Linked DNA regions of Homo sapiens. The protein of the gene in region 2 purifies or fractionates together with the protein of the main gene of each other region. This does not show direct contact. Each region holds a gene or a part of one and is shown on either strand. Other genes may lie near its edges.

The links. The genes of interacting proteins can lie anywhere in the genome.
Region 1: the proteins of AKAP13 (region 2) and MTR purify together in Homo sapiens (affinity purification with mass spectrometry; 3 studies listed by BioGRID and IntAct, with this or other methods). This does not show direct contact.

What each region holds. Positions count from the first base shown.
Region 1 is NC_000001.11:236,889,276-236,896,302, forward strand, and holds part of MTR (methionine synthase), read left to right. Parts: coding exon 1-61; intron 62-1,857; coding exon 1,858-2,054; intron 2,055-5,081; coding exon 5,082-5,282; intron 5,283-6,082; coding exon 6,083-6,275; intron 6,276-7,027. UniProt on the Homo sapiens protein: Catalyzes the transfer of a methyl group from methylcob(III)alamin (MeCbl) to homocysteine, yielding enzyme-bound cob(I)alamin and methionine in the cytosol. MeCbl is an active form of cobalamin (vitamin B12) used as a cofactor for methionine biosynthesis.
Region 2 is NC_000015.10:85,572,576-85,579,602, reverse strand, and holds part of AKAP13 (A-kinase anchor protein 13), read right to left. Parts: intron 4,473-7,027; coding exon 4,274-4,472; intron 674-4,273; coding exon 1-673. UniProt on the Homo sapiens protein: Scaffold protein that plays an important role in assembling signaling complexes downstream of several types of G protein-coupled receptors.

The DNA of each region.
Region 1 (7,027 bases), on a different chromosome or scaffold from region 2:
CAGCTCCGGGGCAAGTACCCGAATCGAGGCTTTCCCAAGATATTTAACGACAAAACAGTAGGTTAGTGCAGTAAGTCCTTCCTTTCTGCCTCTGATATTCAAGCTGTGGGATTGTGACTTTGAAGACCGGAATCGGTGAGGAGCAGTGGATTTGGATTGTGCAGATTACGGCTGCTTTCATATTGCTCACCTGCCCAACTTTTTAATGGTTTTCAATCTGCTAGATTGGTCCTTATTGCATCAACTAAATTTGGTATTTACTTTATTCTTTCAATAAATGTTTATTGACATCAGTTACATGCTGAGCACTAGGGATAAATGGAAGACAATATAATCCCTGCTGTCTAGCACCTGACTAGCTGGCACATCCAATAGTAATGGGCCCTGCCTGGGCTCCTGTGGACATAAGAGGAGATAGAGCTCAGACTGGGAGGTCAGGGCAGGCTTCCTGGACAAGGTGGTGTTCGAACTGTTTTTGACGATTCAGTGGGAGTTGCCGTGGCTGGGACTGTGGATGTGATATGGTGTTGAAGAAAAGGTCATTCCAGGTAGAGGAGACAGTGTGAGAAGGCACAGGCACATGTGCCTATTTGGGGAACTGCAAGGAGCCCATTGTGCTTGGAGCATTGGGGAGGGAATGGGGATTTAGGGTGATAAACTAGAGAAGTAAGTGAGGTGTTAAATTACTACCCCCACTTCTCACTTCTAGCCTTACCCCAGAATCCACCGACAGAGACACGGAATCCAAATGCAAAGCCATTCAAAGGATCAGGTAGTAGCCAGATCAGAGCAGCAGGGAGGGGTAGACTCACAGAAGCATGGGATTAGGGCTGAGAGGAGCCTAGAAACCAGCCTTTTGCCAAGTTTCCCACGGGGGGGCGTGCCTGGGTGTGCGTGTTCGGATGCTGAGACTCAGGAACTCTCAGGTAGTCAGGAACGTGGTGATGAGCAAGGGGCTTCTTAGTGTGCTGCCCCTGAATCATCACAGGTGAGCTGTCCAGGGGCCGTGGGACAGGCTTCTCACCATGGGCAGGGTGGCCGAGTCTCACGGAAACCGAGATGGTGTCCTCGGAGGCTGGCTCCCACTGCAGGTCCGGGAGCAGGCCAGCCCAGGTGCAGCATTGAAGCCACATGTGAGGATTTGGGCCACACTTCACCCCTTACCACTAACGTTCCCTGTACACATACAATTCCACTGACTTCACAGCGACCTCTGGGGGACGGGGCCTGTGCCTTATATTCACCATGCTTTGTATTCTGTGGTGTCTGGGCCTGGACGCATACAGTGAGGATTTACCGAGTCTGAGTGCATAGGGTGAGGATGTAGCTGTCCTTGTTTAACTCTTCATGGTACTGTTGAAGGCCCCAAATTGAAGAATCCCTTCAGAGGTTGTTACGGTCAAAATGTCAATCGTTACGAATTATATTGTAGTTGGGATTAAAAGCACCACGGAATACGAGGCACAGGTCGCGTCTCCCAGAGGTCACTGCAAAGTCAGTGGAGTTGTATGTGCACGAGGAATGTCAGTGAGGAATGTGGCCTGCTCTTTCTCATCCTCTCTGACAGAATGCTTTGGGGAGCCACAGCTTTGGCTCTCTGCTTTTTGTCCAGTGGAAAACTTGAGTGGCTTGAACTGGGAGAAGCAGACTGTGGGAGCTGCACTTAGCAGGAGCCGCAAAGCCCTGGCTGTTCCACTTTAAGCTGGGTCAGTGGCAAACACCAGAAAGCATTTGAGGAAAATGGAGAAGCCTGAAGAGGGAAGGTGACTGAGGAGGGGTAATGGCTTTTAAAAGAAGCATTGTTTGATGGTTATTTTTGGCATCTTTAAGTGAATTCTAATTCTGTTTTTCTAATAGGTGGAGAGGCCAGGAAGGTCTACGATGATGCCCACAATATGCTGAACACACTGATTAGTCAAAAGAAACTCCGGGCCCGGGGTGTGGTTGGGTTCTGGCCAGCACAGAGTATCCAAGACGACATTCACCTGTACGCAGAGGCTGCTGTGCCCCAGGCTGCAGAGCCCATAGCCACCTTCTATGGGTTAAGGCAACAGGTATGGAAGGTGTACTGACAGCCAGCACACCGCTTTCGCTTGTGAGTTTAAGCACTACACAAAAGAGCTTTGCATAAATGAGGGTCTGCTTCACCTCCTCCCAAATGACCAATCACATGCCCAAGAAGTGACCAGTCACACGCCCAAGCCCAAGCCATCTGTGAGGACGAGGGAGAGAAGGCGCCACCATGGGTGTCAGAGGCAGGACCACTCAGCAGGAGTGAGGCGTTTAATATTGTGTTCCATGGATGGGCGAGGACCATTGCTGCTGTCTCAGGTGGTCACGTGTCAGGATCTCAGTCTTCTTAGCTTCTGAAGAAAGAGAACACTCACTTGTTCAAAAACGTAGGTTAATATCTATGCATATTATTAAAATAGACTGTCAGGTGGCTTCCCTTGAAAGGGGAAGACAGGTGGAAACAAACATTTGCAGAATGTATACCAGGTGCCAGGTGCATAGTAAGGTGCTTGATGGTCATGCTTTTAATTTCCACACAGCCGTGTGAGGCAGTTTAAGTTTGTGTTTTACAGAGAAGATGAAGGATGATGGAGATTGTGCTGGGCCCCCCAATATAGAGAGGAGAGCCCAGCCTGTACATATCCCCAGTGGCCGTTCTTTGACTGTGCTGGCTTTTTTTCTTTCGAGTGACGAGAACAGACTCTTCTCAGCAACTTGTCTCTCATCCCCCCCACCTTTGAAAAGGCAAATATCATATGCATGTCCCTTTAGCTGCTGTAAAAAAGAGTGTCTTAATCAAGAATTGGAACCAGAATTCACCAGAGTCATTAACAAATTTAATAATTTGCAGAAAATTACTCTGTTTTACTGCCATTTTCAGTCGTTCAGAAATAATAATGTTGGCTGGGCACAGTGGCTCACACCTGTAATCCCAGCACTTTGAGAGGCCAAGGTGGGAGGATTGCTTGAGCCTAGGAGTTTGAGACTAGCCCCGGCAAGATGGCAAGACCCTGTCTCTACAAAACAAATTTAAAAATGAGCCGTGCACTGGGGAGTGCAGGCCTGTACTTCTTCAGCCAGCTACTCGGGAGGATGAGGCGGGAGGATCACTTGAGCCTAGGAGATCGAGGCTGCAGTAAGCCATGATCATGCCACTGTATTCCAACCTGGGCAACAGAGTGAGACCCTGTCTCTAAAAAACAAACAAAAAAGATAGTGGCGCATTTTAATCCCAACCACAATATAATTCATAATCATCCATATTTTTACCATAACAGCATCTGAAGGGATTCTTAAATTTGGGGCCTTCAGCAGTACCATGAAGAATTAAACAAGGACAGCTACATCCTTACCATATGCACTTAGGCTCAGTAAATCCTCACTGTATGCGCCCAGGCTCGGACGCCACAGAATATAAGGCACTGGGGTTCTAATGTTAAGTTCCAGCCCCTCCTCACTAGGGAATTTGTGGCTATTCTTTTACAGACATAACTGTTCAAAAACCTCTGCTCTAGCCCAGTCTTTCATCTTTCAAGTCCTGTGTCCTCTGCGATCTCTTTTTACTTTCAGTACCATTCATGTCCGGGCAGTCTGTGACATATTAGGGCATTTAATAGAATGAATTCTCAGAGTTCACCTTTTTAGTAGCCTCTGGAGAGGGGAACTGGGCCAGGCACATACATTACCTACCCAGGTAGCAATTTCTCAGGAGGGGCTTTCCTCCAGTGCACTCTGGAACATTCTGGTGGCAGTGCCTTATTACTCTGGGAGTCTGCTCTTCTGAGTAGGCTCTGATTGCTGTCTCTTCGAAGGTACCATGGGGCTCTGTGATCTCTCTCTCCTGTGGCGCAGGGAAGCTTTGGGTCCCCCTCTGGCCTTTGTTAGCAAAGAATAATTGATGGGCCGAGTATACCTGGAAAACGGCTTCCCCATGCACAGCTGTCCCTGAGCTCTGTGACATTCCTGTGTGCCATTACCAAACACCTCCTCGCCTGTACTTAACAATTTCCTGCCCTGTGTCAATGAAGCTGTACTTGCTTCCACGGCGGGCAACGAGCTGTGAAGTGTGTGGGTTGGCCACTCATTGATTAATTGATCAGTCCTGAGCAGTACCATATATGTAGACGCATGGGTTGTGGTACCAGCCCCCTGGCCCCTCCCACTGTCTGACCTTGGGCCAGTTGATCAAGCTTCCTATGCCCCTGATTTCTTGTCTGTAAAATGGAGCTGATGGTATCACCTATGTCACAAGGTGGTTGAGAGGGTTAAATAGTAATTCATATAAAGCACCAAGAGCAGGCATACAGTAACCACTGAATGAGTATTATAAGCTATTTACCTTCTCAGCAAATATTTATTGATTTTTTTAATATGTATAAGACTTTATTTGTTACCTTAGTTGCAGGGAAGAGTTGCTTATGAGCTGAGGGTGAAAAATGGGGGAGGGTAGGCCCCAGGGCTGTGGAGAAAATCCAGAAGCAAATCCTGCTGAATTCTTGGTTTGGTGCCCAGCCAGCCCTGGGTGTCCTCAGCCGGCTCCTGTATGACCCTTGACCCCACCCCACATGGCAGGCAGCACATGGCCTGGGCATCGCTGACCCCAACAGTTTGTTGTTTGAGCTGCTGCTGTTGATGGAGAGTGGAGGCGCTTCCATTTATTGGATCTCTTTTGAACATGGTGCTGGACTTAATTGAAAACACTTGGGGACAAATTTTTTTTTTTTTTTAAACCGTGACTTTAGCACAGTGCCTGAAGGCATTCAGTAAATGTTTGGTCAGTGTGTGAATGAGCCAGTGAACTGGTGTCTTGACAATTTATGTTACGTCATGTCATACATTTTTTAAAAATCTCATTTCATTTGTTTATCTTACAAATATTTATTGGATACTCACTATGTGTCAGACACAATTCCAAGTACTGGGGATGTAACAGTGCACAATACAGGCTGCCATCTGTGCGTTGTGAAGCTTATTCTCATTTGACGATACCCGATTGCTCTTCATGGTGTGCTGGCGCCACGTTCTTGCTAACGGCGCCCCCGCACACTCCTACACTCCTTGGTTTTAAGGCTGAGAAGGACTCTGCCAGCACGGAGCCATACTACTGCCTCTCAGACTTCATCGCTCCCTTGCATTCTGGCATCCGTGACTACCTGGGCCTGTTTGCCGTTGCCTGCTTTGGGGTAGAAGAGCTGAGCAAGGCCTATGAGGATGATGGTGACGACTACAGCAGCATCATGGTCAAGGCGCTGGGGGACCGGCTGGCAGAGGTAAGGCAGAGGCATTGCGCCGAGGGGCTGAGGACAGAGGCCAGGCAGTAGGGAGCCTGGGGTGGGTGCCTGAAGACTGATCAGCCCTTAGAACCAGTGTCTTTTTTTTTTTTTTTCTTGAGATGGATGCTGCTGGCTTTAACATTATACGTATTTTAATATTATGTATCCCCAGATTGCTTGTGTACATTATCTTTGAGGCAAAGAAAAACCTTGAATGGTGCCACAGTTGGCTGTTGCTCTTAGAGCCTTTATCTCTACCTTATCTCTGTTGTCTCTCTTTGCTTGTTGTGATGTGACATTTTCCTCAGTACCCCAAAAAATTAAAAACAAATTTTTATTTCAGAGCCCCTCGTTGTAATGCTGGTGTCATCTATAGATTCTTCATCTTCCTCTGCATGGAATGAGGGTAGTAGCCTTTGCCCTGGGGAGAGCCTCTCCCTTTTCCTGCAGTGAACAGTGGAGGAACTAGCAGCTGTATGGTCCCAGCTGCTCTTTCTGGCCCGTGGAGCTTTGGATTGACCTTTAGGGAAATCGTTAATTTTAAGGTCTAAAATCTTTAGGTCATTAAGTATGGTCCTTCAGAGCTCAGGTTGAGGCCAAAATTGAGCTGCAGAGCAGCAGCTGATGAAAGTACAAACCAATCAAGAATCCAGCCTGTTTCCTCTTGTCAAATTTCCCCTGGCTGTGGTCCAGATGAGGGAGGGTGTCCTCATGGTTCTAATTCAGGGGGTGGAGGCTGCACTGATGCTGTGAGCCCCTGCGTCTGCCTAAGCATGCCTGCTGCTTTGGGTCCCAAGGCCTTTGCAGAAGAGCTCCATGAAAGAGTTCGCCGAGAACTGTGGGCCTACTGTGGCAGTGAGCAGCTGGACGTCGCAGACCTGCGCAGGCTGCGGTACAAGGGCATCCGCCCGGCTCCTGGCTACCCCAGCCAGCCCGACCACACCGAGAAGCTCACCATGTGGAGACTCGCAGACATCGAGCAGTCTACAGGTAGGAGCCAGGAGGCTGCGGGTTCCTGTCTTCCTTCTTCAGTAGATACTCTTATCAGCATACTGGCACTTAGGGTTAAACATGTTTTTAAAATGGAAGGGCTTCTAATCACATTGTCCCTTATGCTGTCCTTTTTCACTCGTAGCTATTCTGCATTTTACTTCAGTATTACTGATTAGTATTCTTACATCATTATTTTTAGATGTATCAATTTAAATTATTTCCTCTTGGCCTACGCCAGATGGGAGTTTAGCTTATGTATACCATCCTGTGCCTCTCCTGCCCCAGTTTCCTGTCACAGGCATGGTGATGTCTTTAATCCCTCCCTTAGAGACCGACCTTTGTCCCTCAGTAATGTCACTTTGCTTCATGCTCTTGTCTCATTGCTTGTGGATGGTGTCCCTGGGTGCTGGTCTTGCAGAGCGCCCAGCCTTCCCTTCAGCCCTCTTTTCTCTTTACTTTTACACTGTTAGTAACATTTATATTCTTCTGTAATCATAATTCTCTGTTATGTTTTGCCTGTGGATTGATTCTAAAAGCTGAAAATGACAAGCTGGCATGTGCCTTTCTGAGACAAAGGCCCAGACACCCGGCCTCAGCGTCCTGTGCCCAGAGCTGACTTGGCTCGTGGTTCTGTGGCTGCACATTGTCATGTCAATGTCCTGGTTCTGTCATTACTGCAGAGTTCATGTAGTTGAGATGGCCCAGGCTAAGCTCACAGTTTTCAGCGGAATTAATAAAAAGCATGCCAT
Region 2 (7,027 bases):
TAGAGTTCTCAAATCTTTCCTTTGTACTTTCCCCTCCCTGAAGCACATTCTTCCAAACAGTGGCATCTGGGTTCATGAGCCCATGTTCCATTTCCCCTGCAGTGTCTGGGGTACTGACATTTGTTGTTGAAATGCCTCCCAGTTCACCTCCAGAGGAATACTGGGCTGTGCCTGGCTCCATGACCAAGTCTCTCTGAAGCACAGCATCTCCACTGCTCAGGGACTCCTGGTCTGTGGGCATTCCAGAAGATTTTGTTCCAGTTTCTTCATTTCTGTTTCCACAGGACGAAAGGCCTTCCGTGCCCTTTACTCCACAATCAGGCAAGCTCTGAAGGCAGCTGTCTTGATCAGATACAGTTCCAGAGTCCACAATAGGTGCTGGCTCCACCTCTTCCCCTTTTCTTTCCACGCCTTTATTTTTCTTCCTACAGGAACGGTCTGTATTCTCCTCCTCAACTATGCTTGACAAATCACAGGGACTTTCAGTCTGTGCAACAGGGCTCCCTGGGCAGCACTGAGTGCTCTCAGTCTCTTCAGAAGAAGAAAGTCGCTGAGGGTCCGTGGGCTCCGGTGCACAGGGAAGAAACTGGCCATCTGTCTCTGGGGCACTGGAAGGATCCTGTGCTGTCATCATTAAGGGCATAAGACTGTCCATCTGCTTGAGGTTTGTTTTCTAGGAGGAAATGAAATACACTTTTAAAAAACTGCCTGTAGGAGAAGATGTCACTGACACCTCTGAGCAAAAATTCTGTTGGACAGAACTCACTTCTATTCTAGCTCTTCTAAGGTCACATGATAAGCGAATCTAAAAGAATACAAATAAATTTCCTCTTATTTCTGATATTACTTTCCTTTCATATCTGCCTATATACTGGGATGTTCAAAATAGATTAGGATATATGAAATATCTATTTTCTAAATTTTGAACTTATTTTAGGAAGTAGATGAAAACTGAGTCTCGCCGGGCATGGTGGCTCATGCCTGTAATCCCAGCACTTTGGGAGGCTGAGGCAGGCAGATCACCTGAGGTCAGGAGTTCGAGACCAGCCTCAACATGGAGAAACCCTGTCTCTACTAAAAATACAAAATTAGCTGGGCGTAGTGGTGCATGCCTGTAATCTCAGCTACTTGGGAGGCTGAGGCAGGAGAATTGCTTGTACCCGGGAGGCGGAGGTTGCAGTGAGCCGAGACAGCACCACTGCACTCCAGCCTGGGCAATAAGAGCAAAACTCCGTCTTAAAAAAAATAAAAATAAAAGAGTCTCAAAAACCTGATTTTTAAAAAGCTCAGTGAATATCTTCAATTGAGCTGCTAACATTAAGGTGGGCTCTCTCATTCTGAGGCCAGGCTGAAGTGCAGTGGTGTGATCACAGCTCACCGCAGCCTTGAACTCCTGGGCTCAAGTGACCCTGCCGCCTCAGCCTCTTCAGTAGCTAGGACTACAGGTGTGCACCATTGCACCTGACTAATTGTTTTATTTTTTGTAGAGACGGGGTCTCACTATGTTGCCCAGGCTGTTCTCCAACACCTGAGCCTATGGGATCCTCCTACCTTGGTCTCCCAAAGTGCTGGGATTATAGGGCCTACACCACTGTGTCCCACCTATATTTTTCATTGTCTTCAGAAGGGCAGAGTCTACTTACACCCTGCCTCATATATACAAGTAAAAACAAATCCTAGCTCTTTTCCATTACAAGGTGCAGCCAATGTGCCTGTGCCCTAAATACTTACTGAGTTCAGTGTCCTTTAATCCCCAAAATATGTTCCAACCAATCTAACTTAACCATCGAGTTATGGGGTCATAATTTCAGGAACAGTGGCATGGCAGATATTCTTTCACCTTTTGATAAAATCAGAACATATTAAATATAAAATAAATGAGAACATATACCTATATACTGTCAGAGTATATTATGGATACTATATGTAATCTCAAAAATGGATTTTGCAACTTTAAAGTATTTAAAAAATATAAACAGATATAACCAACAGCATGGGAATGATTAAGAAAATCAAGGTTCATAAAACTGATGGAAGAAATACTAGCCATTATTAACTATGAGGACCATATTGCAATTAGAAAAAAATTATTAATCTAAGTTTATAAATATGCAAAAATCCCATGTGCATGCAGCAAGGTTTAAAATGGAGAAAAACAAATACAGGTGATCTTTAGTGATTTTACCTTTATATCAAAATTTCAAAAATTCTTATAAAAATATTTTCTCAACACCTAAAATCTATTTTTCCAAACATCTGGTTTGCTCGCCATTCATTCATTACCTGATCTACTGCAATAATATGCATACCTACTGCCATCCATCCTCTCATTCACCTACTCACTCAGTGAATATATTGGGCACTTACAGGGTTCCATCATCAGACCATTCCTATCTACCTACTGAGCCTATTGTAAAAGTTTATATGTACAAGTGTAAAATGTGTCATGCTTGTTAAAGTCTTTCTAGTAGAGTGTACAAGCAAAATGGACTTTCACTAAAAGCTTCTGTGTTAGGCTCCTTAAGAGTATTCAAAATTAGCTTATTTCCAGTCCTGCTGAGAGTACGACAGTCTCCTAAAAATCAGGAAATGAAGTCATTAAATTTAATAAATGGTAAACATTATAAAACAGAAATCTGGCGAAACAAGTAGTGTTGCCTAAAGAAAGTAGCACATGTATGTTCCCACAGTTTTAATTTCTCGTATTTGCCTGCCAACCATTTCCATATCTTGGCAGGTAGCTTTGGTACCTGCAAAACTATATTTTCAAGTGAACTACCATTCACCTAGTAAAAAGAGCTCTAAGGAAAAACCTGATTGCCTAGAAGTCCATTCAGAGGAAAATGAAATGTCACGTGCTCTGGAACAAACACAATTCTAAAACACAAAAGTGGGAGCATCACATAACCCTATGGAATTTCTTGGCTTGCTGGTCTCAAATAATGCATGCTCCCAAAGAAGCCTCTGGCATTGAGCTGACCTTAAATGAAATTACTGTCCAGTGGTTTCCAAATCAAATCAGCTCTGAAATAAACTGGGTGGAAAAATTACCTAAACACAGCCTTTCAGATGTTATGCCCAAGAGAGATGTACACATATGACGTTTATGTTATTCGTAATAAATGCTAACAGGGAGTCTGTAATGTTTTTATGTCTGGCAACAACTTTATCTTGAAGACTTGAGTGGATTATAAAATCTTTTCTGTTTTTTTTAGCTATCTTTGTACCATACAACTATTGATTTAAATATAGTAACACTATATTTAAATGGTACATATCATCGCCACTAAAATAGTTGTAAAAATACTCCTGATTAAATTTGGTTCTTGTTCTTTGGCAACAATCTCAGAAACTGTTGGTTCTTTCATTTTGTAAAGTTAAGCCAAACACAGACAAATATCCTTTTATGCCAGAAATTTAGTTCTAGTTGTTGCATATTTCTGTACCTGAAATGTGTGTCTTCCATTATTCCCAAAACCAATGAAAAAAACCTCTCAGTCCCCCTACGGCTACAACCTTAATGCTAGCTCTGATCTGTAAGTGGTAACATTTAATACTGCTAATACTGCTTTACAGGTCTCAGAATCTTTGGGGAAAGTCCTTCTTTTTCTGTTTTTGAGACAAGGTCTTGCTCTGTCACCCCGGCAGGAGTGCAGTGGTGTCATCTCAGCTCACTGCAACCTCTGCCTCCCAGGCTCACATGATCTGCCTGCCTCAGACCCCCAAGTAGCTGGGACTATAGGCGTACGCCACCATGCCCAGCTAACTTCTGTAGAGCCAGAGTTTCTCCATGTTGCCCAGGCTGGTCTCAAACTCCTGAGCTCAAGTGATCCACCTGTGTTGGCCCTTCCAAAGTGCTGGGATTACAGGCATGAGCCACTGTGCCTGGCCAGGAAAGTTTTTTTTTTTTTGAGACGGAGTCTCGCTCTGTTGCCCAGGCTAGAGTGCAATGGCGTGATCTCGGCTCACTGCAAGCTCCGCCTCCTGGGTTCACGCCATTCTCCTGCCTCAGCCTTCCGAGTAGCTGGGACTACAGGCGCCCGCCACCAGGCCGGCCAATTTTTTGTATTTTTAGTAGAGACAGGGTTTCACCGTGTTAGCCAGGATGGTCTCCATCTCCTGACCTCGTGATCCGCCCGTCTCAGCCTCCCACCAGGAAAGCATTTTTATGTTCTAATTATATCAAGGTTCATTGGAGGAGGGCGGGGACACACACATACAAAACACACACATACACATGCATATACTTAAAAATAAAAGCTTTCTGACTTACCATTAGTTGCTGTTGGATGTTCATAAGTTTAAAAATTGGTCCAGTGCAACCGTCTCCAGGAAATGGGTGTTCATGATGTGAATCAGACTCAGAGGTTAATGTATAGATGTCCAACTCTCGATGATGCCTCACAGAACAGTCTCCATACGGTATTTCATAGGATAAACTGCTCCAGGAGTCTGGTTCTCCAGCATTCTCCCTACATGCAAGCATCTCTGGTTAATATATATACATTCTGCCTCCCAGGCATAGGCTTAACGTTCTAAGTCTTACTTCGTATTTCTAACCTGATTGTTCTTTGAGGTTCAACAGCAAAAATTAGTATATATACCTCCCAAATGATTCAGGCATATAACCAATAGCTCCATCCTCCTCACAAGAGATCACAAATGGGTTAAATGAAAACTGCAGGACTCCTAGCCCTAACAATGTTCTTTAGATCAAGATAAAGAGATATGTGGGATCTAATAATAGTTAATATTATGCTAACAACCAAGTAATGAGGAAGTGCAAGGAAGATGGTTTTAGCCTGATTTTCAACAAAATCAAGGCTTATTAAGAGGTGCTCTTAAAATAAATTAGACCATATGCTAACTACAGTCAATTATAATGGCAAGAGAAGAACCACTCACTCCAACCCTTACAAGGGCACTCCAACTTTTCTAACAATAGGTGCAGAAAACACCCTCAAGATTATTGAAGTCAATTACACAAAGAAAAACTGTTACAATGACATATTGTTCAACACTTGTCAATATAATTATCATATCCTATTTGGAATAAAGCACTTGGTTCCAAGAACTTAAAGTTAAAATTCGTAAAATTTAAAAAACAAGCAAGTTTGCTCAACTCATATCATTATAAACAAATATAACAACTTTCCACCATTATACGCCAACTGATTTGAACAAGGCAAGTGGGTTTCTCCTCTAAAGGCTACAGCACCTCCAATTCCACCCTTGCATCCAGAAGGCATACCCATGCCCGTAATGCCTGCTGTGATACCACACATAATCTGCACTGTGCTTTTTTGCAGCAGATGAAAGAATCTTGGGGCATACAATAAACAGGGATGAGGCACACAATCATACCCCACACAATCTCATATTATTAACTATTGTACTTGAGCACGCATTTCAAGTGTTAAGCACCCTCTTCTACATTCAGCACAAATGTAAATGTCTGAAGTCCTAACCGTTGGTGTCACTATTCTTTCTCATTAGTTTGATACACAGTGTGGTATACAGAGTTAGAGATTTCTGGGTACAAAATTTTATCTCCTAACTATATGATGCTAGACAAATTTCTTAACTTTTCTGAGCCTTAATTTCATAATATGCAAACACAGATATTATAATCTAAGCACTGTTTTGAGAATTAGAGAAAATGTGCATAAAAAACTACATCTATGGTGTTTGACACAGAGAAATCACACACGGATACTGCCTATTCTTCCTCCTTCTACTCTTTCATTCATTTAAAAATAATTCCTAGTAAGCCTTCCCTTCTTAAAAGTAGAAAAACATATCTACTTTTTTCTATTTTTCTACTTGTATCAGAAAATCCTACTTTCTCTGAAAGCTTTAAACATAATGAAAACACTCCTCAAACAGCATTCTGATAAGGTGCCTAGCAGCTCAAAGATCAGGCACAATAATAGATTATGCTTTCCATCAACCCTTTCCTCCTTATATGAAATGTTATTTTTCCTTTCCTTACAACATTAACACCTTTGAATATCCCATATCATATCATATTTATTTATTTATTTATTTATTTATTTTTGAGACAGAGTCCCGCTCTGTCGCCAAGGCTGGAGTGCGGTGGTGCGATCTTGGCTCAATGCAACCTCTAACTCCCAGGTTCATCGATTCTCCTGCCTCAGCCTCCTGAGTAGCTGTGATTACAGGCGCGTCCCACCACGCCCAGCTAATTTTTTTGTATTTTTAGTAGAGACAGGGGTTTTGCCACATTGGCCAGGCTGATCTCGAACTCCTGACCTCAGGTGATCCACCCACCTTGGCCTCCCAACCTATATCACAGTTATTATAATCCCACCAAAGCAAACAATAGATTGGTAAAGTATCCCTGAGATTTTGGGAGGAAGGTTATATTTGAGATCATTATCATGTTTTGAAATAGAAGAAACTAAAGAGTTAAGAAATTACAGACATGCTATCTAGCCACTGAAAAATATGAGAAAGATTACTTCAACTGTCTCTCCAGTTTTTTCTACTAAGTCACACCTGTCTGTCATTAACAATTCACCTGAGACTAATTGGAATTTTAAAGCTAAAAATATGCTACAGTAGCAGCCATAAAAAAGGATGAGTTCATGTCCTTTGTAGAGAAATGGATGAAGCTAGAAACCATCGTTCTCAGCAAACTAACACAGGAACAGAAAACCAAACACCACATGTTTTCACTCATAAGTGGGAGTTGAACAATAAGAACACATGGACACAGGAAGGGGAACATCACACACCGGGGTCGGTCAGGTGGTTGGGGGCTAGGGGAGGGAGAGCATTAGCAGAAATACCTAACGTAGATGATGGGTTGATGGGTGCAGCAAACCTCCACGGCACGTGTATACCTATGTAATAAACCTGCACGTTCTACACATGCATCCCAGAACTTACAGTGTAATAATAAAAAAAAAATTTTTTTTTTAATGCTACAGTGGAAAACGTATAAGGCAATGGAAAATCATGTACTGGCTGACGGTAATAATAATAAAGTGTACTCCAAAAACTA